Linked DNA regions of Homo sapiens. The protein of the gene in region 1 purifies or fractionates together with the protein of each later gene. This does not show direct contact. Each region holds a gene or a part of one and is shown in the gene's direction. Other genes may lie near its edges.

Region 1 (7,028 bases):
CTCCTTTTGCAAAGCATATTTTGTTGTTTTGTTGTTGATTAATTCTTCCATACCTACCCAATTACATTTTACATGTATATATACCCACACACACAGAGGCATTCAGTTCACTTCAAACACTGTACTTTTTTCCAGGACATACCCTGGAATTTCTTTGGTCCTACCAAGTGATAGAATCTATTAACTTTGATCCATTGTATGTCGATTTTAAACTTTTAACTCTCAAAGAGTAGTTCTATTTACTGTCTTTTCAAGTTCTTGGGTATCATCTTACCACAGTACTTTTTAAATTATTCTGATATATCCAAGAATTCTACCCTACCTGAAAATGTTGAACCCTGAACATTTATGAAATCATTATCTTTTTTAAAATCTTAAGGCACTCATTAATCAACAGAGCACACCCATTATAAAATTTATGAAGCAGTTTGTCCAAGTTACTATAATTTTATTAATATTCTTTTTAAAAAGCTGTTTGCATATACAACTAGAAATGTTAATTTAGAGAAAAGTAATGTGAACACTACTTTTTTGAGTTATTTTCTATGTTTCATTCTTTACAGTTGTAATCGTAAAATGAAACCACCTTACCTTAAAGAATTATATGTAAGCTCATCTTTAGCAAACTGTCCTATGTTACAAGAATCAGAAAAGCCAAAGACTGAAATAATTAAAGTAGACCAAAGTCACTCAGAAGACAACACTTACCAGGTATGATTTAAGAGTTAAAGAAAAAATGAGTATGAATAATTTTAAATACAGAGTCCCAGAAAAATTATGCATGCTTTTATTAGCAAAAAGTGTTTGAATTTTATTGGAGTGATGAAAATGGGTTATTTTTTCCTTCCTGATTTCCAGATTTTATGTAATGTTATTTTTGAACGAATGAAAATTACATTTTTTTATGATCAGATTTAAGTGAAATCATTTGTTACATGCTTCTGGAGGAAGAAACAGTTATGAATTTTTTAATTCTTATTCCTTAAGGTAGTGCTTCCTACTTTTTTTGGGTGTCAGACCCTTTTCAGTATCTAAAAAAATTTACAGGTCTTCTCAAAGAAGCCTATTTTTACACTCAAAAAAATGTATATATTTCAAGGTTTTCATGGACTTTCCTGAAACTCAATTTTGGACCACTGGATCCCAGATTAAGAGGTGTTCAAGGCCGGGCGCGGTGGCTCACGCCTGTAATCCCAGCACTTTGGGAGGCCGAGGCGGGCGGATCACGAGGTCAGGAGATCGAGACCATCCCGGCTAAAATGGTGAAACCCCGTCTCTACTAAAAATACAAAAAATTAGCCGGGCGTAGTGGCGGGCGCCTGTAGTCCCAGCTACTTGGGAGGCTGAGGCAGGAGAATGGCGTGAACCCGGGAGGCGGAGCTTGCAGTGAGCCGAGATCCCGCCACTGCACTCCAGCCTGGGCGACAGAGCGAGACTCCGTCAAAAAAAAAAAAAAAAAAAGAGGTGTTCAAAAATGTTTTAATTCTTTAAAATTTGCTTAACATTTCTCATGTTGAGAAACTTCAGTACTTGTGGTTTCATTATTTTATATTTTTCATTAACTTCCCCTTATATTACTTGTGTATTGTTCTTTCAATAATAGAATTGGTACATTTTAGGCTACTGGTTTCCTCCCCTTATTCTCAACTATAGAGGCTTTAATATTGAAAAATAATAATTATCATTATGACTTTGGACACACTTCATCTTTCTTCTTACTTAACCTATTGTGCCTGTGTTTCCCAAGTTACATATTCATTTTTCTCATGAAAAATCAATCTTTTCTGATTCAACCCCCGCCCCAAGTTTGTTCGAGATTAGATCCTTACCAATCTTTATATTCCCTTGCGTGCCTTGGTAAGGACTCTGTTTCCTTAATACAGAGTCTGGCATGTGGGTGCCATGCTATGAGTATATACTATTTCAAAAAAGGAATCTTATCTACTATGGCATAATAATAGCAGCTAACATTTATTGATTGGTTATTATGTAGCAGGCACTGTTCTGCACTTACCTACATGCTTTGCTACCAGTAACATAATTTTTGGCCCGGCGCAGTGGCTCACACCTGTAATCCCAACACTTTGGGAGGCCGAGGTGGGTGGATCACTTGAGGTCAGGAGTTCGAGACCAGCCTGGCCAACGTGGTGAAACCCCATCTCTACTAAAAATACAAAAAAACAGCCAAGCTTGGTGGCACATGCCTGTAGTCCCATCTACTCGGAAAGCTGAGGCAGAAGAATTGCTGGAATCCAGGAGGTGGAGTTTGCAGTGAGCTGAGATCATGCCACTCCACTCCAGCCTGGGTGGCAGAGTGAGACTCAAAAAAATAAAATAAAAAGTTTCACTGTAGCTCTTTGAAGTAGGTACTATTATTCCCCTGTTATAAATGGGAAAATTGAGGCTGTGAGAAGTTAGGTAACTTTTCTAAGTTCACATAACTTTGTTGTTTTCTTTCAGTCCCTTGTTGAACAGCTAGACCAAGAGAGAGAGAAGAGATGGAGAGCTGAGCAAGCCGAAAATAAACTCATGGATTATATTGATGAGCTGCATAAACATGCAAATGAAAAAGAGGATATTCATAGTCTGGCTCTACTTACCACAGATAGGTAAAAAGAAATTAATAAACCTGAAGATACCTCATAGCATAAACAATACTGACTTTAGAACTGGAATACATTAGTTTCAGTGTGGTTCAATCAACAACAATGTATGTGGTTTTAGTTTGATTTGAACTAATTTTATTAGACAATTTAGCACTTTATTAGCTTGTTATATCAACAAGAAATTCAGGTACATGTATTTGAGCCCTCAAGCAGGAAGGTGTCAGATAAATATTATAAGTAAAGAACAGCAAGAGACTAGAGCAGTGATTAACAAACTTTATGTAAAGTGCCAGATTCTGTAAAGGGCAGGCATTGGCAGCCTTTTTCTTTAAGCTTCATGGGTCATATTTGATCTCATCACATACTTATCTTCTGCAATGGGCTTTTGTATCATATAGCCCAGTTTCTTAATTCTGATGTTTTTATTCTATCCTCACCATTACGTCTCCCATTTTATCTGGGTTTTTTGTTTTGTTTTGTTTTGTTGTATTGCATTCTTTAATACAGGTCTGTCATTTCATTCTGTGAAAATACCAGTTTTTTAAATTACAATAACTTTTTTTCTTCTGTTTCCTGTAATTATTTCTAACGTCATGCTTTTCCTCAAATGATTATAACATGTTTAGAGTTTCTTATGGTTTCTTACCCTTGAATGAGCACTAGGTTTTTAGACTTGACATTTGCTAACACACTTTGGGAAGTTGCTCTTGGTTCCATTTCTTGTCTGATTGTGCAGTGGATAATTCCCCTTCTAAAATCTGATTTGGATAAGTTGATGTACACAGTTCACAGCCCAGTTCCCGATTTCTTTTAGGCACTTTTGTGATACTGACGTGGTGTTTTCTACCCCACTGCATGTTTCTCTGATAGGTTGTACCTGTGGAGTATAAGGACAATTCTAATACGCAACATGCATGCTATGAGAACCTCTATAATTATAAAGCTGTGATGCGTTATGTTATCACTAGCCCTTCTACCACTACCCACCAACTTCCTGCCTTATTTGTGTTTTATAAATGTCTGTCTGAATTGACACAAGAAGCTACTGGGTATGGATGAGGGAACAGGATGTCTCAATTAAGAGTGCTCTGACTACCTCAGAAAAACAGCACTCCTGCTTTCAGTAAGTGCATGAGTAACCAACATTATGTAGTGACAGATTTATAGAGATCTTGTGACTGAGTCATGGACAGATAGTAGAAGAGAAAAGATATGTCTTCCTTTTTTCAGAATGGAGCAGTTTCATGAGGCAAAGCCTGAGTGTTGTAGGAGTTGTTTTTAATTTCAATTTAGTTCCATTTGCCTTGTAATTGAAATTATTCCCAAATTTTGGCATTCTCTTATCCTTTGTTTTCAGTTATATGTGTATGAATTTTTACTTTATTCTGTATTCTAGGTATTTAGTGGGATATTAGAGGACGCTGTGTCTAGGGCTGCTAGCCAAAGTCCATTTAAACTGGAAGACTTTGGGCACACTTTATCTTTCTTCTTACTTAACCTATTGTTGTGCCCGTGTTTCCCAAGTTATGTATTCATTTTTCTCATGAAAAATCAATCTTTTCTGATTCTTCTTTTATCTGTGCCACCCCCCCACCCCCCCCACCACCACATGTTTGTTTGAGATTAGATCCTTACCAATCTCCCTGTTCCCTTATGTGCCTTGGTAGGGACTCTGTATCCCTAATGCAGGGTCTGGCATGTGGGTGCCATGCTGTGAGTATATACAATTTCAAAAAATGAATCTTACCTACTATGGTATCTTTATTATCCAAACCTCCTTGATGACCAGATCTGTTCATCTAATTATCTACTAAAAATGCCTTGCCTGTATTCCTCATAAGTTTCTTAAGATCACCATGGCCTCAGGTGGATTCATTCTTCTTCCTTATTTTATATTTCTTGCCCTAATAAATGGTGCCCCATCCAGCATCCAGTCAGTCACCAAAACTATAGAAATCTAGGAATCTTTGTTTTTTGCTTCCTTTCTCTTTCTCCTATCCCACAACCAGTTGATATTACCATCTTTATTGATACTTTTATTCATCAATTGATATTGATATCATCTTAAAAGATGTTGAACTATCTCCTCTGTATCCCAAAACTGTTACCTTTCTTTAGGCCCTTAACTGTTGCTTAGATGATTGTTCCATTTCTGTTTCTCTGTGGCTTTCCCTGCCCCTACCCATATACAGTCTAGCACGCTTTCATATAGCATATCAAACAGGAGTTGAGAGCATGAACAAAGGAAGACCAGTTCAGAGAGTACTCTCATTGAAGTCAACAATTTTATCATTTTTATATGTGTAATATACTTAACACCACATATAACTTCTGCTTTAGGCTAAAGGAAATTATTTTTAGAGAGAGAAATTCCAAAGGACAACTCGAAGTTATGGTTCACAAACTTCAAAATGAAATTAAAAAACTGACTGTTGAACTAATGAAAGCAAAAGATCAACAAGAGGATCACCTTAAACACTTAAGAACCCTCGAAAAAACATTAGAAAAAATGGAGAGACAAAAAAGGCAGCAGCAGGCAGCACAGGTATTTCTCTATTTTAATATATGAGTAGCACAGATTAACACAAATTCATAGCTTCTATCGTGAAACAAATTATACTACCTAGAAAACCTAAAAGATGTAAGGCCATATGCAAAAATTAAATTGCTGTTAATTTAACGGTCACATAGCCTGTTGAATTATGTCTAAATTAAGACTACTAGCTCTTAACACAAAGCAATTAAAAAGAAAAGTTGATGGAAATGTTGCAGGTGGTTAGGCTTTTATTCTGAGAGAGCTGGCTTTTTAAAAGGCTTTCAGGTGATTGAAGGAATTTCATTTTCATGCTTTCTGAATGGAAATTATCATTAAAATCTGTGATGCAAATAAGCAATAGTTAATGCTAGTGTATTTGTTCCTTCCAAGGCTGCACTTTGTGTGACTGTAACATCATTAATTTATTAAAGTTTGAAAATCAACTTAGTCACCGGACACTGTCATTTAAAAGGTACTTATGGAAACTGACATTAAAATAGCAGGGGAGACTATTATCTAAATAATGTAATTGTGGGTATTTTACTCAGATAAGACTGATCCAAGAGGTGGAACTCAAAGCTTCAGCTGCCGATAGAGAAATATACTTACTTAGAACTTCCCTTCATCGAGAAAGAGAACAAGCGCAACAACTTCATCAACTTCTTGCATTGAAAGAACAGGAACACAGGTAAATGAAAAATGTATCAGGAATGTATTGGCATTTAAAAAAAGAAAAAGAAAGCTACTGGTTCCCCACTACCAGTATTTTTTTTTTTTTTTTTTGAGACGGAGTCTTGCTCTGTCGTCCAGGCTGGAGTGCAATGGCGCAATCTCGGCTCACTGCAAGCTCTGCCTCCCGAGTTCACGCCATTCTCCTGCCTCAGCCTCCCGAGTAGCTGGGACTACAGGCGCCCGCCACCATGCTGGCTAATTTTTTTTTTTTTTGTATTTTTAGTAGAGATGGGGTTTCACCATGTTAACCAGGATGGTCTCGATCTCCTGACCTCATGATCTGCCCCACTCGGCCTCCCAAAGTGCTGAGATTACAGGCATGAGCCACCGCGCCTGGCCCCCACCACCAGTATTTAAAGATAGTGATTGAGCATTGGTGAAGTCTGACAGAATTAGTTAGTGGAAAATGCCGTGTTCATGTATGTATACATTAGAATCAGCCCTATAGCAAGAACTAGTAGCTAAAAAATGAATAGTTGCCTTTGTTATCAGCATTTGAGGTATAGGTTTATAACAATATAGCTTATTGTTCATTTCTTCAAACCCAGCCAAAAGTTGGTCTTTATATAGAGAGAAAATTTTTAATTGACCCCCAAGTTAATTAATTAGTAAATTAATCAGTATTCTTTATTCCTCTGAAGGAGGGGTCAGTGAACTTTTTCTGTAAAGGGTCACATAGAAAATATTTCAGGCTCTGCAGGCCATACCTAACTTTGCCTTTGTAGCACAAAAGTAGCCATAGATAATACATAAATGAACGGCATGGCTGTGTTCCAATAAAAGTGTATTTACAAAGAAAAAGGCAGTAGGTCACATTTGGCTGATGGGCTGTAGTTTCTCAACTCTTGCTCTACAGAATCTGTAATAATTTCAACATTTTCAGTTTATCTATTTCAGTTATCTATTTACTATCCTACCAGTGAAATTGTATGATTATCATATGTTAATTGTATTTATTCCGAAACCTGTTTTGTTTTGTGTCTACATAAATTTTGGTGCTCTGGGGAAAATTGTTATCTTGTATAGATGAGACAATTATAAAAGATTGGGGGAAAATAATCACAAAAATCTAGAATTTTGTACTTTGTTTCCTTTACAGGAATTTTGTACTTAGTTTCCTTTACTTAGTTTCATTCCAGTTTAAAGAAACCAAA
Region 2 (7,028 bases), on another chromosome or scaffold:
GGGTAAAGTGTAACAGATTCTTTACTACGGTGATTTTTGAAGGGACATTAATGTTATCTATATGTTTGTAGTATGGGGTGTATCTATCATATTAATAGTTTTATTATCTTAATATAAACGTAGATGTTTTTCAGAAGTAACTGTTTTAGAATCTTAGTTTAATAAGATAATTTTATACATTAATTTGTTATATGTAGTGGTTTATCTTGTTCATTTGGTCTTTTAACAAACATTTTAAGAGCAGGATAGCCAACCTTCATATGAAATACTTGTTGAAATATATTTTAATTTCAACCTTTTAAATTCTTCAGGGTTTTTTTTTTTTTTTTTTTTTTAGAACTGAGCAAAATTGTAAGCTCCTGGCTCTTGTTTTGCCCCAGGACTATAATACTACTTTCAGTGTTTTCCTTTTTCTTCAAAATATTTAATAATCAGTGTTCACTGACATTTTATTACATTCTATAAGATTACTCAATATTTATTAAGTACTTGATATTTATTTGCATAATATTAACATTTTAAAAATTAACTTTTGTTTTTGAAACAATTGTAGTCTTCCAGAAAAATTACAAAACTAGTAAGAGTTGCCTTTTGCCCTTTACCCACCTTCTTCAGCTGTTAATATCTTAGCAAGTACAATGATCAAAACCAGAAAATTAACACTAATACGGTAATACTGTATTAACTAATCTATACACCTTATTCAAATTTTATTTATTCAAATTATATGCAGTGGTTATTATTAGTGTCCTACTAGTATTCTTTTTCTCATCCAAGATCACACGTTGCATTTAGTGGTCTCTTCCAATCTGGGTGAGTTCCTCAGTCTTTAGTCAGTGTCAAAGTAATGAAAAACAATCTTGTTATCTCTCAAATTGGGTGTTTCTGCTGCTTTTTCATGATTAAATTCAGATTATGTATTTTCGGCAAGAATATCATAGAAATGATGTTTTGCCCTTGTTAGTGCATCGTACCAGGAGGTACATGGTGTTCGTATGTCTCATTAATTATAGCGTTAACTCGGCTAGGTCACCAGGAATTTTACCAACTGTTGCTTTTGTACCAGCAATGTGATGCCAGTATGAAAAAGATAACTTGTATCTTACATATTATTGTGAAAATACTTTTGACTTCATGAAGTCCCTCAAAGGGTCTTGAGGATTTCCCTAGAGGTTGAAGAATAACACTTTAAAAGTCACTGCCCTGGAGAGAATCTCTATTTGAGCACATAGAAGCTTGTATAAGAATGTTCACAGCAGTTACTATGGTTTTGAGATAAATAAAATTTAAAAAAGAATGTTCACAGCAGTGTTGCATGTAAAAACAGAAAATTGGAAAAAACTTAAATGTACCTTAGCAGGAGACTGGATAAGTTGTATGAATTTGTATAGTGCAGTACTGTATAGAAGAGAATGTTAAGCAAATAAAGTAAGTTGCAAAAGAAAACCTACGGTCTGTTAAAGTGCGGAACAAAACTATTTTAGGGTAGGGTTTTGCAGCCTTGGCACTATTGACATTTTGAATTGGATAGGATAATTTTTTGTTATAGGAATGTCCTGTGCATTGTAGGCAGGCATCCCTGGCCTCTACCCATTAGCAGCAGTAGCACCCCACCTCCTTGTGGCAACCCACAATATCTCCAGACATTGCCAGATGTCCCCTAGTGGGGGCAAAATTGCTCCCAATTGAGACTCATTGGTTTAGGGATATGTACATGCGTGGTAAAAGTATGCCACGTAAAGGTAAGATAAACACTAAATTTAAGAGAGTGGGACATCCTTATGGTGAAGGGAGTGGAGAGCACGATTGGTGGAAGTACACCAGGGGCATTTAAGTATTTTGGTAATGTTCTGTGATTAAACCTACCCCATGGTGAGTGCATAGGTGTTAAACACACACACACACACACACACACACACACACACAAAATTTTATTTTTTTTGAGACAGTCTCCCTCTGTGGTCCAGGCTGGAATGCAGTGGTGTGACCTCGGCTCACTGCAACCTCCGTCCCCCAGGTTCAAGCAATTCTCCTGTCTCATCCTCCTGAGTAGCTGGAATTACAGGCATGCACCACCACACCTGACTAACTTTTGTATTTTTGGTAGAGACGGGGTTTCACCATGTTGGCCAGGCTGGTCTCGAACACCTGACCTCAAGTGATCCATAGCCTCAGCCTCCCAAAGTGCTGGGATTACAAGTGTGAGCCACCACACCCAGCCCTTTCTATATTTTTGTGTGTGTCATATTTTTGTACTTAATTTAAAAAAAAGCCTTATATTTATCAGAGGGAGAACTGAGGTTGCCTTTGATTATTCATCATTTGTTCCCTAGTTCCACCTATATTATATGAATAGAAAATTTATTGCAGTATGATTGGGAATTAAGAAATGGGTAACCTTCAGCATAAGATTCCTTGCAACTTTTCTGGGAGTTAAGGATTCTGGAGTGGTTGGATCATTGTGAATCTTTCTGATACGATTTTTCTCACTACATTTTGAAGATTTTGTCTGGGAGTTGTATGCGGGTCTCTAATATTTTGGCATATCAGCTTTATTTTTTCTTTCAGGACACACATGATATGTTTGAATTTATGGTCTAGGATAGTTAAACTTTGCAGAGAGGAGCATTTAGTATCTGTTTGAGTGATATAACGTCTGTCTTGTTTCGAGATTCATTTGGCTCATTTGTAGTGAGCAAGAAGATTTTGGGACTATATGGGATGTTATTTAATTAGTTTGGACTAATTTTGTAAAGTCTGTAGTCAAGTAGGTATAGTTGACTTTTTATCATCTAGGCACTGATTTTATAGGAGTTGGAGAAAAATGTGTTTTTATTTATGCTTGCTTTGTGTTCACTTGACTACAGTGTTGTATTGTTACCAGAGATAATGGAGAAAATGAATGTAGATTTCCTGTTAAGGTTCTGTCATTCTTCGTGTCGATAATACAGAGTTAGAGGTATAGAAAATCAGCTTTATTCAAAACCAGCTTCTGGTCATAGTTCATTCAAACTGTTTTGGGGGTAGTTCTTTGTCCTTGTCTTTGACCGCTAGCAAAGAATGCCTCTCCAGTCATACGTGGAAAAACTTCTCAGATGTTTTGTATTCAGTTGAAGGTTTAAAAGGGCTGACCCTGGATTAAAAAAATGAAATGAATTAATAATCCTCAGCTTTTCTTTATCAGAATAGAGTCCCCTATTCTGATCTGTTTCTAGAACCACAGTAGAAAGGGGTATTTGTCAGGACACAAAGCCGTAGGAAAAAACAGGATTTGAGGGAACAATGTTTGGGGAGCAGGATGCCACACCTGGAAAGGATGAAATATCACAAAATGTTTTTTATTAATGACATCTGCAAGGAAAACTTTATTTCCTCATAGATCCTACCTATTTTAAAGGCTTCTGTAAAATGTCTTTCTTATTTTATTTCCTCCACTAAAACAATGTTGTAAATTATGAAAGTCTATCTAGTTCTTAATAGTCCCTGTAGATTGCAGCTTGGTTGAGCTGAGGACTTCAAGAAATCAACTAGTAGACCCCTGTGTCAGTACTTCTCAAACTTAAAGCACACAGATCACCTGGGGACCTTTTAAAATGCAGATTCTGGTTCAGTAAGTTTGGGATTCTGCGAGAGTATTTCTAATAAGCTCATAGGTGATGCAGATACTGCAGGCTCAAGGACACACTTTGAATAGCAGAGTACTAAGTGACTATTTGTCTACTTGAGATGCCCTGCGTTTCTGTTTTCTCCTTTTCCTTTCAACAGATTCCAAGCCTTGATTGTTTGTTGGTAATACATGTCTTTAAAACTAGATTGGCATTATTAGTTGGGGAGAAGAGAAGTGTGTACAACTGAAATAAAGGAGCATGTAACACCTTTCTAATATATGTACTTTTTGTAAGTGTAATGCTATCTTAATGTGTATTTTCGATCCTATACTTTCCAGCCTGTCCCTCTGATTAGATTAGCTATTTCTTTTTGAATGTGTTCCCAGGTAGCCACCCACCAGGGTCTCTCCTCCACCCTCTATAATTGCTAGCTAGTGTGATATCCCCACATGTGTGCTTTCATCTGTTAAAGCAGGGTATGCTGTGTTGTAATTGTCTTTTGCACTAGATTATTAGTTTAAGGGAAAGGGTCTGTGTTATTCTTGTATCTCCATTTTCTAGCAGAACCATGTCTCTGGATGAGTATTTTCTGAATCAGACACACTTTTCAAAGAGCTTTTGACTCATTGGATCAGAGATTAGATAGATATTATCCTAAAACAAGATAAAAGGAAACTCAGATTCAGAGAGATTAAGAAATTTGTCCAGTCACAAAGCTGGTGAGTGGCAGATAGTAGGGATGAATGCCAGTTGATTGCTTTTCCTCAGTATCATTCTCTTTTTCTTTTATAGTATAGTGGTTCAGAAACATGACCACCTGTAACACTTTGCTTGTGGGAAAATTGATAATGAAATGTAAACCAATTTAGAAATGAAACTTTGTGATACATCCTGTTGTAAATTGTTCAGTGCTCTTTTCAAAACCATTCTTTTTTTGCTTTGCTTTGCTTTTCTTCCTCTCTCCCTCCCTCCCTCCCTCTCTCCCCCCTCCCTCTCTCCCCCCTCCCTCTCTCCCTCTCTCCCTCTTTCCCCCCTTCTCCCTTTCTCTTCTTTCTTTCTGGAGTTTCACTCTTGTCCCCCAGGCCAGAGTGCAGTGGTGCAGTCTTGGCTCACTGCAACCTCTGCCTCCTGGGCTCAAGCCATCTTCCCACCTCAGCCTTTTGAGTAGCTGGGACTACAGGTGCGCACCACCATGCACAGCTAATTTGTGTATTTTTTTGTAGAGATAGGGTCCTGCCGTGTTGCCCAGGTTGGTCTTGAACTTGTGAGGTCAAGTGATCCATCTGCCTTGGCCTCCCAAAGTGCTGGGATTACAGCTGTGAGCCATCATGCCCAGCCTTTTTTTTTTTTTTTTTTTTTTTAAAGAGTTTCACTCTGTTGCCCAGGCTGGAGAGCAGTGGTGTGATTATAGCTCATTGCAACCTCGAATTCTTGGGCTCAGGTGATCCGCCTACCTCAGCCTCCCGAGTAGCTAGGACTATAGGTGCACACCACCAAGCCTGGCTAATTTTTTTTTATTTTTTATTTTTCTTAGAGTTGAGGTCTTGCTGTATCACCCAGGCTGGTCTCAAACTCTTGGCCTCAAGTGATCCTTCAACCTCAGCATCCCAGATTGCCTGGATTACAGGCATGAGCCACTGAGCCCTGCTTGTTTCTTTCTAGTGTGTCTTTTTTGCACAGCTAAGGTTTTACTGTATACATAGTTTGTTTCATTCTTTTTTTTCCACTTGACGTGTGTTTTCTGTATTCCTTATAAATAATCTAATATGTACTTCCTATATGGTAAAATAAGGTGACATTTATGTCTTAACTACTTAGAGAGAAATATATATGTATTTCCATATAGGTATGCCATATGTACTGTTCTTCAGCTTTCTTTTTAAATGAATATTGTCTTGGACATCTTGCAGTGTTAGCACATAAGAATCTGTCTTATTCTTTTTGGTCGGTACATAGTATTTAATAGTTAAAAAATATATTACTTAACTATTCTTTTGATAGACATTTATAGTGTTTTCTTTTTTGTCATTTTAAACAACACTGCAACAAGTATCTTTGTGTATACATACCTTTGTGTACTAATTTTTAGCTTTTAAATTAATTTGTTACAGGAATTTCTGTTATAAATGACATGGCTAAATATTGTCCTCACTGACTTTGAGAACATTTGTCTTTTAATAGAGGAATTTAACTTGTTCATATGTATTGTGACAACTGATACATTTTTTCTAATTACTGCTACCTTACTCTTTTTTTTTTTTTTTTGAAATGGAGTTTTCCTTTTATTGCCCAGGCTGGAGTACAATGGCGCGATCTTGGCTCATCAAAACCTCTGCCTCCCAGGTTCAAGTGGTTCTCCTGCCTCAGCCTCCCAAGTAGCTGAGATTACAGGCATGCCCCACCATTCCCGGCTAATTTTTTGTATTTTCAGTAGAGACCGTGTTTCCCCATGTTGGTCAGGCTGGTCTCGAACTCCCGACCTCAGGTGATCCACCCACCTCAGCTTTCCAAAGTGCTGGGATTACAGGCATGAGCCATCACACCTGGCTGCTACCTTACTTTTTAACTTTCCAGTTTTCTTGTATTTTTTTTTTTAACCAGTGAGTTAGAAATTTTATCACCTTTTTTTCTGCTCTGCTAATTATTACCTTTTAATATTTAACAAACAGATTGAAAAATTAGGTTTTTTTTGCATGTAGAAAAACTAAACAGTCTCTTTAATTACTCCTGCCCATACTTCTTTCTTTATTTTTTTGAGGTGGAGTCTCACTCTGTTGCCCAGGCTGGAGTGCAATGGCATGATCTCAGCTCACTGCAACCTCTACCTCCTGGGTGCAAGCAATTCTCCTACTGGGTGCAAGCGATTCTCCTACCTCAGCCTCCTGAGTAGCTGGGATTACAGGCGGGTGCCACCATGTCCAGCTAATTTTTGTATTTTATTTTTATTTTTTTTGAGACGGAGTCTCGCTCTGTCGTCCAGGCTAGAGTGCAGTGGCAAGATCTCAGTTCACTGCAAGCTCCGCCTCTCGGGTTCATGCCATTCTGCTGCCTCAGCCTCCTGAGTAGCTGGGATTACAGGCGCATGCCACCATGCCCCGCTAACTTTTCATATTTTTAGTAGAGACGGGGTTTCACCGTGTTAGCCATGATGGTCTCCATCTCCTGATCTTGTGATCCGCCCGCCTCGGCCTCCCAAAGTGCTGGGATTACAGGCGTAAGCCACCACGCTCGGCCTAATTTTTTGTATTTTTAGTAGAGATGGGGTTTCACCATGTTGGCCAGACTGGTCTGGAACTCCTGACCTCAGGTGATCCACCCGCCTCAGCCTCCCAAAGTCCTGCGATTACAGGCGTGAGCCACTGCGCCCGGCCATCTCCTGCCCCACACCTCTTACCTTTTTCATTGTGTTGGTTTTATGTA
Region 3 (7,028 bases), on another chromosome or scaffold:
TTGCCTTCATTTTCTCTGCCACCATTTCCTTTGTTTTCTTTCTTTTTTTTTTTGAGATGGAGTTTTGCTCTTGTTGCCCAGGCTGGAGTGCAATGGGGCGATCTCGGCTCACTGCAACCTCCGCTTCCTGGGTTCAAGCAAGTCTCCTGCCTCAGCCTCCCGAGTAACTGGGATTGCAGGCATGTGCCACCATGCCCAGCTAACTTTGTGTTTTTAATAGAGATGGGTTTTCTCTATGTTGGTCAGGCTGGTCTTGAACTCCCGACTTCAAGTGATCCACCTGTCTCAGCTTCCCAAAGTGCTGGGATTGGAGGTGTGAGCCACCACGCCTGGCTCTCTGCCACCATTTTCAAGAGTATTGCCATCTGCCTGAGCAAACCTGGTTCATCACCACCTCTTTGCAAGAGAAAAAGGAAGTCGGGAGAATTGTGTGTAATTTTTTTTTTTTTGAGATGAAGTCTCGCTCTTGTCCCCCAGGCTGTAGTACGATGGCCCGATCTTGGCTCACTGCAACCCCTGCCTCCTGGGTGAAAGCAGTTCTCCTGCCTTGGCCCCCTGAGTAGCTGGGATTATAGGTGCCTGCCACCACGCCCGGCTAATTTTTGTATTTTTAGTAGAGATGGGGTTTCACCATGTTGGCCAGGCTGGCCTAGAACACCTGACCTCAGGTGATCCACCCACCTCGGTCGGCTGTGTGTATTTTAAGGCAAAGATTCACAACCAAAAACAAGGCTTTATTAACTTTTGTATCTAAGAACCTGCAGTGTCGAGCCCTCTTTTATTCCTAGTATTACTACTTTAGGTGTGAACTTTTTATCTTTATTTTACTGATTCCTCTAGAAGTTTATGCATTTTCTTGACTGCTTTAAAGACAATCTATATTGTATCATTTTTCAAGCCCGTAGAAATGTGTAAGGCCTATAATTTGAACACTTGTTATTTTTAAGGTTATGAGCATGTAATATACCATTGATACATGGAAGAATATGTATAAATACCACTAGATAGGTTATATTGAAGAGATAATATCTAAATTTTTGTCCAGAGTTGATGGGGTGCAGTTTTGTAGGTGTGTTTCTCAATACATTGTGTCCATGTTTTAAAGCATATAGAAATTTGAATACTGTTTAACCTCATATAGTCCTTGTTTATAGGTTTAATATTTCTAAAGACTAAAGACGTCACAGCTCCCTTTAAGATTCAGTAATACTAATAAAATTTGAGATATACAGGGTTAGAGTCCAACAAATTCAAAGGAAAATTGTTGAATTATATAGCCGTAGAGCAGGAATGAAACCCAGGTTCTAAGTTCCAAGGGGGCCATGAGCTACCATACAGGTGCATCAGTGACTGGGCATAGAGTTGGCAAAATTATTTAAGAGAGTGAGCTGTGGATCCTAATTATGTGAACATGAATTTTTGAACTGCATGGTGCCTCAGTTTATCCATCATTACAGTGGGGACAGTAGTAAGTTTTTCTTTTTCTGCTCAGTTGTCTGAATTATTACCCCAGTCTCTCTTGTTGCCACTCTTGATGCCCACATGAGAGGATCTAAGGTAATTTCTGACAACCTGGGACTCCTTAAGGAAAAACAGAAGGTTCCACAAACCCCATTTTAGGAGAAACCTCTGTTTTCCTCATGGAACCCCAAGAACTTTAAGCAGACAGGTCCCTCTCAAAAATCTAAGGCTCTCCTCTGTTTTGCCTTGCGTTGTCTGACCTTTTTGGTTTGGATGGGCATCAGAAATTAGTAGGGGAGAGAGATCTAAAGAAAATTGTGGATATGAAGATGTATTTATTATAAGAAATGTTATGAAGGAAAGAAATGTTATATGAGAGAGGATCTTATATGGCAAATTGTTGTCCTAAAGTAGAATGACTAATTACAAAAGAGGGAAATACAGGACAGGTCAGATAAATTTAATCATGTCGTAGATAGTCTGTGGAAGTTGTGTTATGGTTCATAAAGTGGGAAAGAAAAACTGAACAACTGCTAGATCTTTTCTTGTCTAGAAGTGTTGTGTATGTGATGTATATATAATGGCTCGGCTTAAAAGAAAATGAAAGCTCTTAAATATTTTGTAAGAAAAATAGAAGCTCTAATGCCTTTTATTTCATGTGACTTCAGTAATCTTTGGGAAATAAAGATGGTGTTAAAGTCAGTGGTAAAATAAAAATATCTTCAAAATTTATCCATTTGGTCTAATTTAAGTCAGAGGTTAAGTTTTAGAAGTGCTTTAATGTCATAAATTGATGCTTTGACTTTGGAAAATAGTTTTGTTTACCTGGTTTGGAGCCGTTAGATTTCTAGGTAAGGTCTCCGGACAGGTGGAGTTAGCCATGTCTCCTAGCTATGCTGGAAGGAGTCAGATTTTATCTGCAGTTCTGTCTTGTATCCTAGACTCTGCACCTGGTATGCAATTAAAACTTACTGCTGCTGCTAATCTCTGGGTTCCATTTAAAATCCTTCCATCACATGAATACTATCCCCTGTACTAAATTTTTCCACAATTAAATACTTAGAATCATTTTTGCTGACTTGACCCAACCATTAGTGATATATTTTAAAAATGCTTATAATGTGTCACAATATATTTAGCAAATGTAGGGAATGACATTTTTACTTTCTTCAGCATTTACATAGCATTTATGTAGCAATGCTATCTCAAGTATTTTTAATCATTTAAACGTTAGATAATAGATATGTTTTTGATTCCTTTTTTCTATGTAAATAAATATAATTATGAGATATTTAGTAAATAGTATCAATTGCATATGTCACTTACAGAATATACAATGCAATTAGGATTATTTTTATACACTACATCATATTTACTTGTTGGCTTTACAATAACTTAGAAATAGTATTCTGGATTAACTGTGTGACTCATGAGAGAGGGAGTTTGTGCAATTATAGTCTTTACAAATTTTTACTAGATTTTTCAAGACTTACGCTAGAACTTTGAGAACAAGGTAATAAATAAGCATATCTGTTAATATCACCTTTGGTCAACTCTTGGCTAGACCCAATGATAATGTAGGAATTAACATAATTTTTCTACTAAAGGTGTTGGATTTGTTCCGAGAGACCACAGTTCAAAGTCATTGACAAAGAAAGTTTAAAAATTGTTAGATTAAAACCTTTTAGTGTGTTTGAAATTGTTTTGTAGAAAAATATCCTGGTTTGCATTGATAGGTTTTTTTTTAAATAACAACTAGACCAAGAGAAAGGGAGAGTAGTGATAAATGTCCATGTTTTCGAGTTGAAAAGTAACAATCAGTGTATTACAACAGATGGATTTGATGTCAAATTACAAATGCTGAGAACGTTATATGTAACTGACTTGCCAGAGTAATTATACAAGGCAAAGAAAGGAAAGGCATCTAAATAGGAAGGGAAGGGGTGAGATTGTCTGTGTTTTAGACTCCACAAAAAACCCATTACAGCTGATAAACACTATATTCAATAAAGTTGAGAGTTACAAAATTAACATTGGTTTCCATACACCAATGACAAACTGTTATCTGAAAAATAAGGTAATTCCATTTATAATAGCAACAAAACAAATATATAAGTAAATCAAAGAGCAAGGAGTAATTTTAATGAAGGATGTGAACGATTTGTATACTGAAAATTATAGCACATTGATGAAAGAAATTGAAAGTGACAAATAGAAAAAGTCCTATATTTGTCAACTGAAAAAATTAATATTGTCAAAATTTCAATGCTACTCAAAGCATTCTACAGATTAAATGCAACCGCTGTCAAATTCCAATGTCATTCTTCACAGAAATAGAAAAATTAGTCCTAAAATCTGAATGGAACCACAAAAGATGCTGAAAAACCAAAGCAATCTTTAGCAAAAAGAACAAACCTGGAGGCATCAGACTACCTAATCTTTGACAAAGCAAACAAGAAAATGGGAAAGGACACCCTATTCAACATATGCTGCTGGTATAATTGGCAAGCCACATGCAGAAAAATGAAGCCGTTCTTCAAAGGTTAAATACAGAATTACCACATGACTCAGTAAATTCACTCCTATGTATACACCAAAAATAAATTAAAACAAATGCCTTACACATAAAGGTATTTATAGCAACAAAAAGTAGGAAACAACAGAAATGTCCATGAATTTTGGAGTGGATTAATAAAATGTGGTCTGTCCATAAAATAAAATATTACTTGGCAATGAAAAAGAAAAACATATTAATACATGCTCCAAAAAGGATGAACATTGAAAACATGATAAATGAAAGTAGTAAGTCACACGTAACTATATTATTATGATTCCACTTACATGAAATGTCCAGAATAGGCAAATCCTTCCAGAATAGGCAAATTCTTAGGAAGTAGATGGATGATTGCCTAGGGCTGGGAGAGGTTTAAAGGAAGAATGGGGAAAATAGGGAAAGATTGCTAATGGGTGCAAAGTTTCTTTTAAGGAGCATAAAAATGTTCTAAAATCGTGGTGATTGTTTAACTAGTTAATACACTTAAAAAACTGAATTTTATACTTTAAATGAGTGAATTAAATAATATATAAATTGTATCTCAATGAACCTGTGAAAAAAGTTAAAAAATATGTGGTATGCATAAACAAAAAGTTCTTCATTTTATTTCCTAGGGTTTTGGGGAAAAGGTGGTGTTTGATTATATGAGTAAGTTCTTTAGAGGTGATTCAGGAGATTTTGGTGCACCCAACACCTGTGCAGTATACACTGTATACACTGCACCGGGGCAGGAGCTGGCTGCAATCCTGTGGCCCCAAATGCCCCCTTGCTGATGGCCTCGTGTTCTGGGTGCGGAGCAAAGAGGAGCAGGTGTTGAAGGCACCTCAGGCAGGCCCTGGGCTCGGTGGGCGTCTTGTGCTCCGCGATTTTGAGGCCATTTGCAGCCAGCTCCGTCAGCCCGAGCTCCCAGCTGCAGCTGCTGCCATGCACAACAGCACCGCCAGGAGTGTCCTGGGGGCTTTTTTCAAAGGAGGCTGTCAGCATCCTCAAGTTCCAGACGCTTAGCCCCAGTCCTCCTTTAAGAGGCTTTTTTTTTTTTCACCAGAGGCTTCTCAGTGGCTTGAAAGCTCAGCTGACTCCCACGAAGTTTGCCGGAACTCAAGGCTGTCAGTGACATTCGTGGCGCCAAGACTTAAGCAGGCGCGTTGCATGCATCGGCCAGTGTCTGTGCCACGTGCCCTGACGCCACCTGAGATAAGCACGCCGCACGCCGCACGCCGCACGCGCACGCCGCACGCGCACGCGCACGCCCGGCAGCAGCTTGCTGGCTTGTAACGGCTTGCACGCGCACGCCGCACGCGCATAACGGTTTGGCCGGCCTGTAACGGCTTGCACGCGCACGCCGCACGCGCGTAACGGCTTGGCTGGCCTGTAATGGCTTGCACGCGCATGCTGCACGCGCTTTAACGGCTTGGCTGGCCTGTAGCGGCTTGGCTTGGCTTTGCGTTCTTGGCTTGGCTTGGCGTTGGTAGCTTGGATTGACGTTTCCTGCTTGGATTGACGTTTTCTCTCTCGTGTTCCTTTGCTGGGCTTGACCTTTTCTCTGCTGGGTTTGGCATTCCCTTGGGTGGGCTGGGTGTTTTCTTGGGGGCGGGGGTTGGCCCTTTCTGGGGTTGGCCCTTTCTGGGGTGGGCGTGGGGTCGCCCAGGGGGGGCGTGGGCTTTCCTCGGGTGGGTGTGGGTTTTCCCTGGGTGGGGTGGGCTGGGCTGGAATCCCCTGCTGGGGTTGGCAGGTTTTGGCTGGGATTGACATTTCTCTTCAAACAGATTGGAAACCCGGAGTTACCTGCTAGTTGGTGAAACTGGTTGGTAGACGCGATCTGTTGGCTACTACTGGCTTCTCCTGGCTGTTAAAAGCAGATGGTGGTTGAGGTTGATTCCATGCCGGCTGCCTCTTCTGTGAAGAAGCCATTTGGTCTCAGGAGCAAGATGGGCAAGTGGTGCTGCCGTTGCTTCCCCTGCTACAGGGAGAGCGGCAAGAGCAACGTGGGCACTTCTGGAGACCACGACGACTCTGCTATGAAGACACTCAGGAGCAAGATGGGCAAGTGGTGCCACCACTGCTTCCCCTGCTGCAGGGGGAGTGGCAAGAGCAACGTGGGCGCTTCTGGAGACCACGACGACTCTGCTATGAAGACACTCAGGAACAAGATGGGGAAGTGGTGCTGCCACTGCTTCCCCTGCTGCAGGGGGAGCGGCAAGAGCAAGGTGGGCGCTTGGGGAGACTACGATGACAGCGCCTTCATGGAGCCCAGGTACCACGTCCGTGGAGAAGATCTGGACAAGCTCCACAGAGCTGCCTGGTGGGGTAAAGTCCCCAGAAAGGATCTCATCGTCATGCTCAGGGACACTGACGTGAACAAGAAGGACAAGCAAAAGAGGTAACCAGGCCTGGGCTGGGAGGAGGTGGGACGTGGGGGGATGATGGGGACATACCCTCCTGGCGGGGGAGGAGGGGGACCTGGCTTTCTCGCCTCCGCAGGCCTCACACCACCCTGGATGTGGAAACCTCAGAGAGGTCAGGGTACAGGGCCCTTTATGAACAGCAACACAAAAACAAAACTTTAGCTGATTTCCAATCATAATTTCCCTCATAGAACACTAATAGACTGTTTTAAAGTGATTTAACTTGCAAAATTAATTAAGTCAATGCAGCAGATTATTTTTAATCTACAGATTTTAAAACAATGTTCTATACATTATAGAAAAGTGTATATTGAGAACTAAGAACAAAGCCCCATAACACATCAACTTCAGGGCTAAATATTCTTCAAATAAAATCCAGTATGGATTTTATATCAATGTACAGTATGTAAATATGTTCTTTACTGAGGAACCTTAGAAGGAAACTGAAATGGGAAGATGGTTCCTGTGCTTGAACAGGAAGATTGAATTTTCTTAAGATGTGAGCTTTTTGGCTGGGCGCGGTGGCTCACGCCTGTAATCCCAGCACTTTGGGAGGCGGGCGGATCACGAGGTCAGGAGATCGAGACCATCCTGGCTAACACGGTGAA
Region 4 (7,028 bases), on another chromosome or scaffold:
CAAACACTAGATCTTATTCCCTCTAAGTTGGAGAGTCAAAGCGTGGTGTTAATATGTTATCAACATTAAGTATTATATTTCATCATGACATTGGCCCTGCACATTATAATTATCTGTATGTATTTATCTCCCCACTGGAGCACCTTAAGGGTAGGGACCATTCTTATTCATGTTGGTATCCTCAGCACCTAGGACCCGAGATAGGTTCTCAAGTTCAAAAAGGTTTGTGAATCAATCCATAAACAAAAACCTTCCTATGTAAGCATGCTAAATGACATCCCTCCTCTAATGCAAATTTTGAAACCTCACCTTATCCAGGAAGAACTTCCAGACTGACCTTCTGAAAGCGTCTTTAGTCTCTAGACCCATTCTGGGGCTCCAAATGTCAGGTTCCCTTTTGCTATGGCTGTTCCTCTTTTCACAGCTCTCTATCCAACCCTATTTCTTCTCTGCACAGGGCCATAGCCACCAAAGGGCAAAGGAAATCCTGACTCGAGGTGGACCCAATACTGTTACCCCACCCCCCACCACTCCAGAATGGGTCAAATTCTGTAAGCAACTGTTCGGAGGCTTCTCCCTCCTACTATGGACTGGGGCCATTCTCTGCTTTGTGGCCTACAGCATCCAGATATATTTCAATGAGGAGCCTACCAAAGACAACGTGAGTCTCTTCAGCTACTACTAGCCAGCCCTATCTCTGCTTAGCCCCAGACACTCTTTTGCTCAGCAGCCTAGCACTCCTGAAGTCCTCTGGCCCAAATCCCTAATTACATTATTACATTAATGTAATAATGTAATAAATGTACATTAATTATAAATGTAATTGATTGTAATTAATTACAATGTAATTGATTAATTACATTGTAATGAATGTAATTAATTATAAAATGTAATTAAATGTACATTAATGTAATAAATGTACATTACATAATAATGTAATAAATGTACATTAATGTAATAAACCAAAATCCCTAATACTCCACTTTCTAAGTTCCATCTTGGTTCCTCTCACCTTTTAATCTAAAAAGCTTCTGGTCCAGTTCCCTGAGGTGCACAATGTCCCCGAAAAACTTGCTGTTCTTTGATGACCTTCCCAATTGATCCCCAAAGCACTTTGCAGTCCCTTTCTCTTCTCCACAATTTTAACCTCATCTCCTTCCTCCCAGCCTCCCTCACAATCCACCCCCTCCATCCAGAGATTAGCCTTCCTGGAGAGAAAGATACAGGCCTTCTCTGACCAGGAATTTTGCTGACGGCTCACCATGGCTCAGGGTTCCTTCCCCAGGAAGCCAAGTGTACTGGTCCCACCTCAGATTCTTCTCTACCCCTCTGCTCTCAACTCAGTCTTACGGTCTCTTACACCTGGTGAAACTGCTGTGCCCCTTGCAGACTGATTTTCTGAGGATGAAGAAGACGACAAGGTCCCACTGATAAACGCTTTCTTTCCCCACCCTCAGCTCTACCTGAGCATCGTACTGTCCGTCGTGGTCATCGTCACTGGCTGCTTCTCCTATTATCAGGAGGCCAAGAGCTCCAAGATCATGGAGTCTTTTAAGAACATGGTGCCTCAGGTAGGATTGGAGTGGGAGGATCTAGTGGGAGCAGGAGCAGGATGTGGCCAAATACACAATGATGAAGTCCCGTGGAAAATTATATCCTATGATAAGTGAGCTGAGTGAGGTTGGTGATGAGGGGGTCAAGGTACTGTATCAGTCCTTAAAAGTACCTGGAAAAGCTGTGAAACCCTGAGAAAGACATAACGTCACCTATGAAGTGCTCTGATCTAGAAGGCAGAATCTGAATCTAAAGAGGAAACACCATACAAACCCCAAATAAGAACATTCTATTTTTTTAAAGAGACAAGTGTTGGTGGGGGTGGGAGCGGGGTGCGGTGGGGGGTGGCTGGATTCTTCAAATATCGATGACCTCAAAGACAAAGAACAGCTGTGGGGATGTTCCAGATTAAACAGACCAGGCATAGTGGCTCACGCCTGTAATCCCAGCACTCTGGGAGGCTGAGGCAACAGGATCACCCAGGAGTTTGAGATGCTATCTCTACAAAAATAAAATAAAATAAAATAGCTGGTCTACATCTGTAGTCCAAGCTACACAGGCAGCTGAGACGGGAGGATTACTTGAACCCAGGAATTTAAGTCTGCAGTGAACTGTGACCAACCTGGGCAAGACCCTGTCTCAAAAAATAATAATAATAATAAAAAGAGGCTAAAGAGGCATGACAACTATTCCGAGGGTGGTGGCTCCCACCTGTAATCCCAACCGTTTGGGGGACCGAGGCAAGAGCACTACTTGAGTCCAGGAGTTCAAGACGAGCCTGAGTAGTATAGTGAGACCTTATCTCTACAAAAAAATTTAAAAATTAGCTGAGCGTGCCTGTAGTGCCAGCTACTCAGGAGGCTGAGGTAGGAGGATTGCTTGAGCACGGAAGGCAGAGATTGCATGCCATTGCACTCCAGCCTGGTGACAGACAGAGACGCTGTCTCAAAAAAAAGACAGGGACGTGGCAACTAAATGCAATATCTAACCCTAGATCTGATTCTGTGCCAGAGGAGAAAGTAATGCTTTATTTTTACTTTTTTATTTTGAGCTTTTATTTTAGATTCGGGGATACATGTGCAGGTTTGTTATATAAGTAAACTGTGTGTCACAGGGATTTGGTGTACGAATTATTTCATCACCCAGGTAATAAGCATAGTACCTGATAGGTAGGTTTTCTGTCCTCACGCTCCTCCCACCCTCCACCCTCAAGTAGGCCTTGGTGTCTGTTTTTCCCCTTCTTTGTGTCCATATGTACTCAGTGTTTAGCTTCCAGTTATAAGTGAGAACATAAGGTATTTGACTTTCTGTTCCTGTTAGTTTGCTTAGGACAATGTCCTCCAGCTCCACCAAAGATAATGCGTTAAAGGATGTATTGGGTCAATTGGCAAAACTGGAATACTGACAGATTAATACAGTAGATTAAAGTATCAATGTGAAACTTACTGAAATTGATAACTACATTGTGGTTGTTTAAGACAATATCTTAATTCTTGGGAAATGCACAATGAAGTTTTTAAGATAAAAGATCATGATGTAGGTAACTTACCCTCAAGTAGTTCAGGAAAAGAGTATACACAGAGAGAGAGAGGATGAAAACAAATGACAAAGTAACTGGGGTGAAATGTTAATAGGTGAATCTGGATAAAGGTTATATAGGTGTTCTTGGTGCTATTTTTATTCTTGCAACTTCTCTGAAAGTTTAAAATTATTTTCAAGTTAAATGTTTTTTAAAGGTACCTGGAAAGAATACGACGGTAAACAGAGGTTCCTAGGCACGGGACTGGAAACTTGCAAAGGAATAGGCTCCACATTTTCCCTATAATATGATCATGTTCCAGTAGTATAGCCCAGGATTTCCTTCTCTTTTTGGTATCACTTAATTCCTTCCTTGGGTAAGAGTTTTGGGACAAAGTGTTTGGGCAGTTTTGGAGACTAGGAGTTTAGGCATGGTCGGTTAGCTTTTGCTACCTAACAAACTACCCTAAAACTTAGTGGCTTAAAATAGCAAGCTCCTGTTTCTCATAATTCTGTGGCTGTGCTGTTGTTCCTCAGCTGGGGCTGGATGGTCTTAGATGACCTCATCCACATGTCTGGGCCCTTAGCTGAGATGACTGGGACAGCTGGGGCCTTTTTCTTCGTGATCTCTCTTTTTACAGAGAGGTTAGCTTGGGCTTGTTCATAGGGTGGCAGAGGATTCTCAGAAACAGGAATGCAAGCCCCAGCATGAAAGCACTTTTTTTTTAATTTTTTGAGACAGGGTCTCACTCTGTCACTCAGACTGAAGCGTAGTGATGTGATCACGGCTCACTGCAGCCTTAACCTTCTGGGCTCAAGCGATCCTCCAACTTTAGCCTCCCAAACAGCTGGGACTACAGGTGCATGCCACCACACCTGGCTAATTTTTTTTTCAATTTTTGTAGAGACAGGGTCTCCCTATGTTGCCCAGTCTGGTCTTAAACTCCTGGGTTCAAGCAATCCTCCCACCTCGGCCTCCCAGTGTGCTGGGATTACAGGTGTGAGCCACCAGTCACGGCCTGAAAGCACTTTTTAAACTCCTCTTTCCATCACATTCATTCTATGGGCCAAAGCAAGTCACGTGGTCAAGCCCAGGTTTAGGGGTAGAGAGATAGACTCCACCTCTTAATGGGAAGAGCGTCAAAGTCACATTGCAAAGGGCCCTGCAAACAGCATCATGGGAATTTGCAATCTGCCAAAGACACCTTCAAGAATGATGTGGTGGGTGACAGTAAGAAAGGGGAGTAAGGAGGAGGGAGACCAATAACAGAAGGTTTTAGGCTAAGAGTGGGATGAGGAAAGCCAAAAGTTTTGGAAATGATCCTGCACTATCCTCTCATAGCAAGCTCTGGTAATTCGAGGAGGAGAGAAGATGCAAATTAATGTACAAGAGGTGGTGTTGGGAGACCTGGTGGAAATCAAGGGTGGAGACCGAGTCCCTGCTGACCTCCGGCTTATCTCTGCACAAGGATGTAAGGTGAGGGGATGCCGAAAGCTATGTGAGGGACCCAAGCGTGATCTCATGGCAGGGTAGACACCTGGGCCGTTAGAGAAAGTATAAGCTTATTACTCAGAATCTTGAGAAGTTACAAGTGCAGATTTGATGTTAGAGACAACAGATGTGTAAATTTGTTTCTCTCAGTCTGTCAGTGATGATGTTGGTGACCAGATGAAGACATACTATTTTTGTAAATAAATCTGCCTTTTTTCCTATGCTCACCTTACAACGCGTCCCCTCTCCCATCCCAGGTGGACAACTCATCCTTGACTGGGGAGTCAGAACCCCAGAGCCGCTCCCCTGACTTCACCCATGAGAACCCTCTGGAGACCCGAAACATCTGCTTCTTTTCCACCAACTGTGTGGAAGGTGAATATCGAACCATAAGTAGCATAGATTCAAAAGCAGGCACCAAAACATAAAGATTTTAATAACTGTCTTCTAAAGGTAGCGAGGTAGGTAAGAGCCAGTAAAAAGTCGAGCTTCTCCATCACGAGCTGTATGACCTCTGGTGAAAGGTCAAGGTCATCATTTCCACATTCGCACAGTGATGACAGTAAAAGTCGTTACTCTGTAGATTTTCGTGTGAATTGAGATAATATATGTAAAATGCCCAGCACAAGACCTAATACATTGTAAGTGACCTACAATTATTAGCTATTATTTTAGCTTGTGAATGGACTATGCTGTTTAAGCTGAAAATGGCACAGAGGGGAGGAAAATTGTTCAGCCCTGCTAAGTCATTCTTCTCTTAAGGTAAGCCCTAACTTCTAACTAGTCCCCTATCCAAGAGAAGATATTGGCATTGGAAACTTGAATTACCAGAGGTGCCACTTAGACTTTACCACTTAAACTTTGGCTTTGCTCCTAGAATCTAGGAATCCTTGAACTGGGAGACAGTTCTGGCAAAGTGGTAATAAAAAGGGACTGAACATCATTCTGTCAATCTCTCCTTTGCCCTTTCCCCTTAAGGAGGCCTGAAGACTCCATGGAGCACACTTGAAAACTATTATTCATGCTTAAGAACAAATGTTTGGTTATCTAAAAATAGTTCTTTTGTTTGTTTTGTGTTTTTTTGAAACAGAGTCTCTCTCTGTTGCTCAGGCTGGAATGCAGTGGTGTGATCTCAGCTCACTGCAACCTCTGCCTCCCAAGTTCAAGCAATTATCCTGCCTCAGCCTCCCGAGTAGCTGGGATTACAGGTGCCCACCACCACGCCCAGTTATTTTGTGTATTTTTAGTAGAGATGGGTTTTCACCATGTTGGCCAGGCTGGTCTCGAACTACTGACCTCAAGTGATCTGCCCTCCTCGGCCTCCCAAAGTGCTGGGATTACAGACGTGAGCCACCATACCCAGCCTAGAAATATTTTTTATTTGAATGCATAGTATTTGTTAAATATTATAAATATTATCTCTAATTCCCACATGCGCACAATACCAGATATTATCCCTATTTTACATGTAGCAGACTAAGGTTCAAAGAAATTAAGCACCATATCCAAGAGTACAACTCAATAGAAAGGAGGCGGGTCAGGGATTCTAATGTAGGTCTGTCTCCATATCTCGTGCTCCTTCCACAGACCCTGCTCTGTGCTGAAAGATTGCTATTTAATTTGAAAATACCTTAAAGAAGAAGCGTAATGTTAAGACAGAATAGACTATGAGAAAGAATCCAACTAGAAAATAAAATACATATATTAAAAATGTTTTAAAATTGATTGGACAGAAGCAAGTTAGCAAGCTTTCCCCAAAAACACTAGATGTCTACTATTAGATTTTAGGAAAAAATTTGCCCAAATTTACCCTTACAAAGTAGGGTTTTCATCAGCTAAGTATATGTTCAGATAAAGGGTATGGAGGAAAGTGGATGGTGGCATTTCGACTGGGAAGCAAGGGTCTGTTTAGATAGAAAATGGTTTTGTAGGAGGCTAAAAAAACCCAACATGTGGCCAAGAAGGTGGAGCTAGGTAGAAGGAGCTGGGCGGAAGGACTTTCAGTTGAGGAATTTCTCAGCAATTCACAGACCGATAGCATTTACCCTAGATCAATTTGCCCTTTAACCTTTACCCTAGACTTTTAACCTTTGCCTTAGACCAATTTGCAAATTAGTAGCATAACTTTAACCTTTACCCTTGCCTCCCATGTCTCATCACCGTAGACCTTGACATGGCTGTGGCACAGACTTCTCTTTGGGTTCTCATGCATCTTCAAGGGAGCCCAAGCTATTTCTCTGGCAATACATGGAAGGTGTATGAAGAAGCCAGTCTGGCCTGGGGTGCTGGATGCTTGGCCTTCTCAGCCTTCCCTGAGGTTGACATCAACCCAACCCCATCTCTAGACACACTGAGATTAATTATTAAATCCCGTTTCTCCAAGTGTGAGGAAACCATAGCAGAAGGAATAAAATAGAAGAACTAGACTAAACCATGACACAAGATATATGTAGGTGACACCATA

The links.
Region 2: the proteins of LRRCC1 (region 1) and MIB1 purify together in Homo sapiens (affinity purification with mass spectrometry; 2 studies listed by BioGRID and IntAct, with this or other methods). This does not show direct contact.
Region 3: the proteins of LRRCC1 (region 1) and POTEE purify together in Homo sapiens (affinity purification with mass spectrometry; 2 studies listed by BioGRID and IntAct, with this or other methods). This does not show direct contact.
Region 4: the proteins of LRRCC1 (region 1) and ATP1A4 purify together in Homo sapiens (affinity purification with mass spectrometry; 2 studies listed by BioGRID and IntAct, with this or other methods). This does not show direct contact.

The regions. Positions count from the first base shown.
Region 1 is NC_000008.11:85,124,229-85,131,256, forward strand, and holds part of LRRCC1 (leucine-rich repeat and coiled-coil domain-containing protein 1), read left to right. Parts: intron 1-563; coding exon 564-711; intron 712-2,460; coding exon 2,461-2,609; intron 2,610-4,946; coding exon 4,947-5,151; intron 5,152-5,690; coding exon 5,691-5,830; intron 5,831-7,028. UniProt on the Homo sapiens protein: Required for the organization of the mitotic spindle. Maintains the structural integrity of centrosomes during mitosis.
Region 2 is NC_000018.10:21,743,785-21,750,812, forward strand, and holds part of MIB1 (E3 ubiquitin-protein ligase MIB1), read left to right. Parts: intron 1-7,028. UniProt on the Homo sapiens protein: E3 ubiquitin-protein ligase that mediates ubiquitination of Delta receptors, which act as ligands of Notch proteins.
Region 3 is NC_000002.12:131,212,529-131,219,556, forward strand, and holds part of POTEE (POTE ankyrin domain family member E), read left to right. Parts: intron 1-5,060; 5' UTR 5,061-5,155; exon of another isoform or gene 5,156-5,781; 5' UTR 5,782-5,874; coding exon 5,875-6,395; intron 6,396-7,028.
Region 4 is NC_000001.11:160,154,588-160,161,615, forward strand, and holds part of ATP1A4 (sodium/potassium-transporting ATPase subunit alpha-4), read left to right. Parts: intron 1-457; coding exon 458-661; intron 662-1,457; coding exon 1,458-1,571; intron 1,572-4,414; coding exon 4,415-4,549; intron 4,550-4,821; coding exon 4,822-4,939; intron 4,940-7,028. UniProt on the Homo sapiens protein: This is the catalytic component of the active enzyme, which catalyzes the hydrolysis of ATP coupled with the exchange of sodium and potassium ions across the plasma membrane.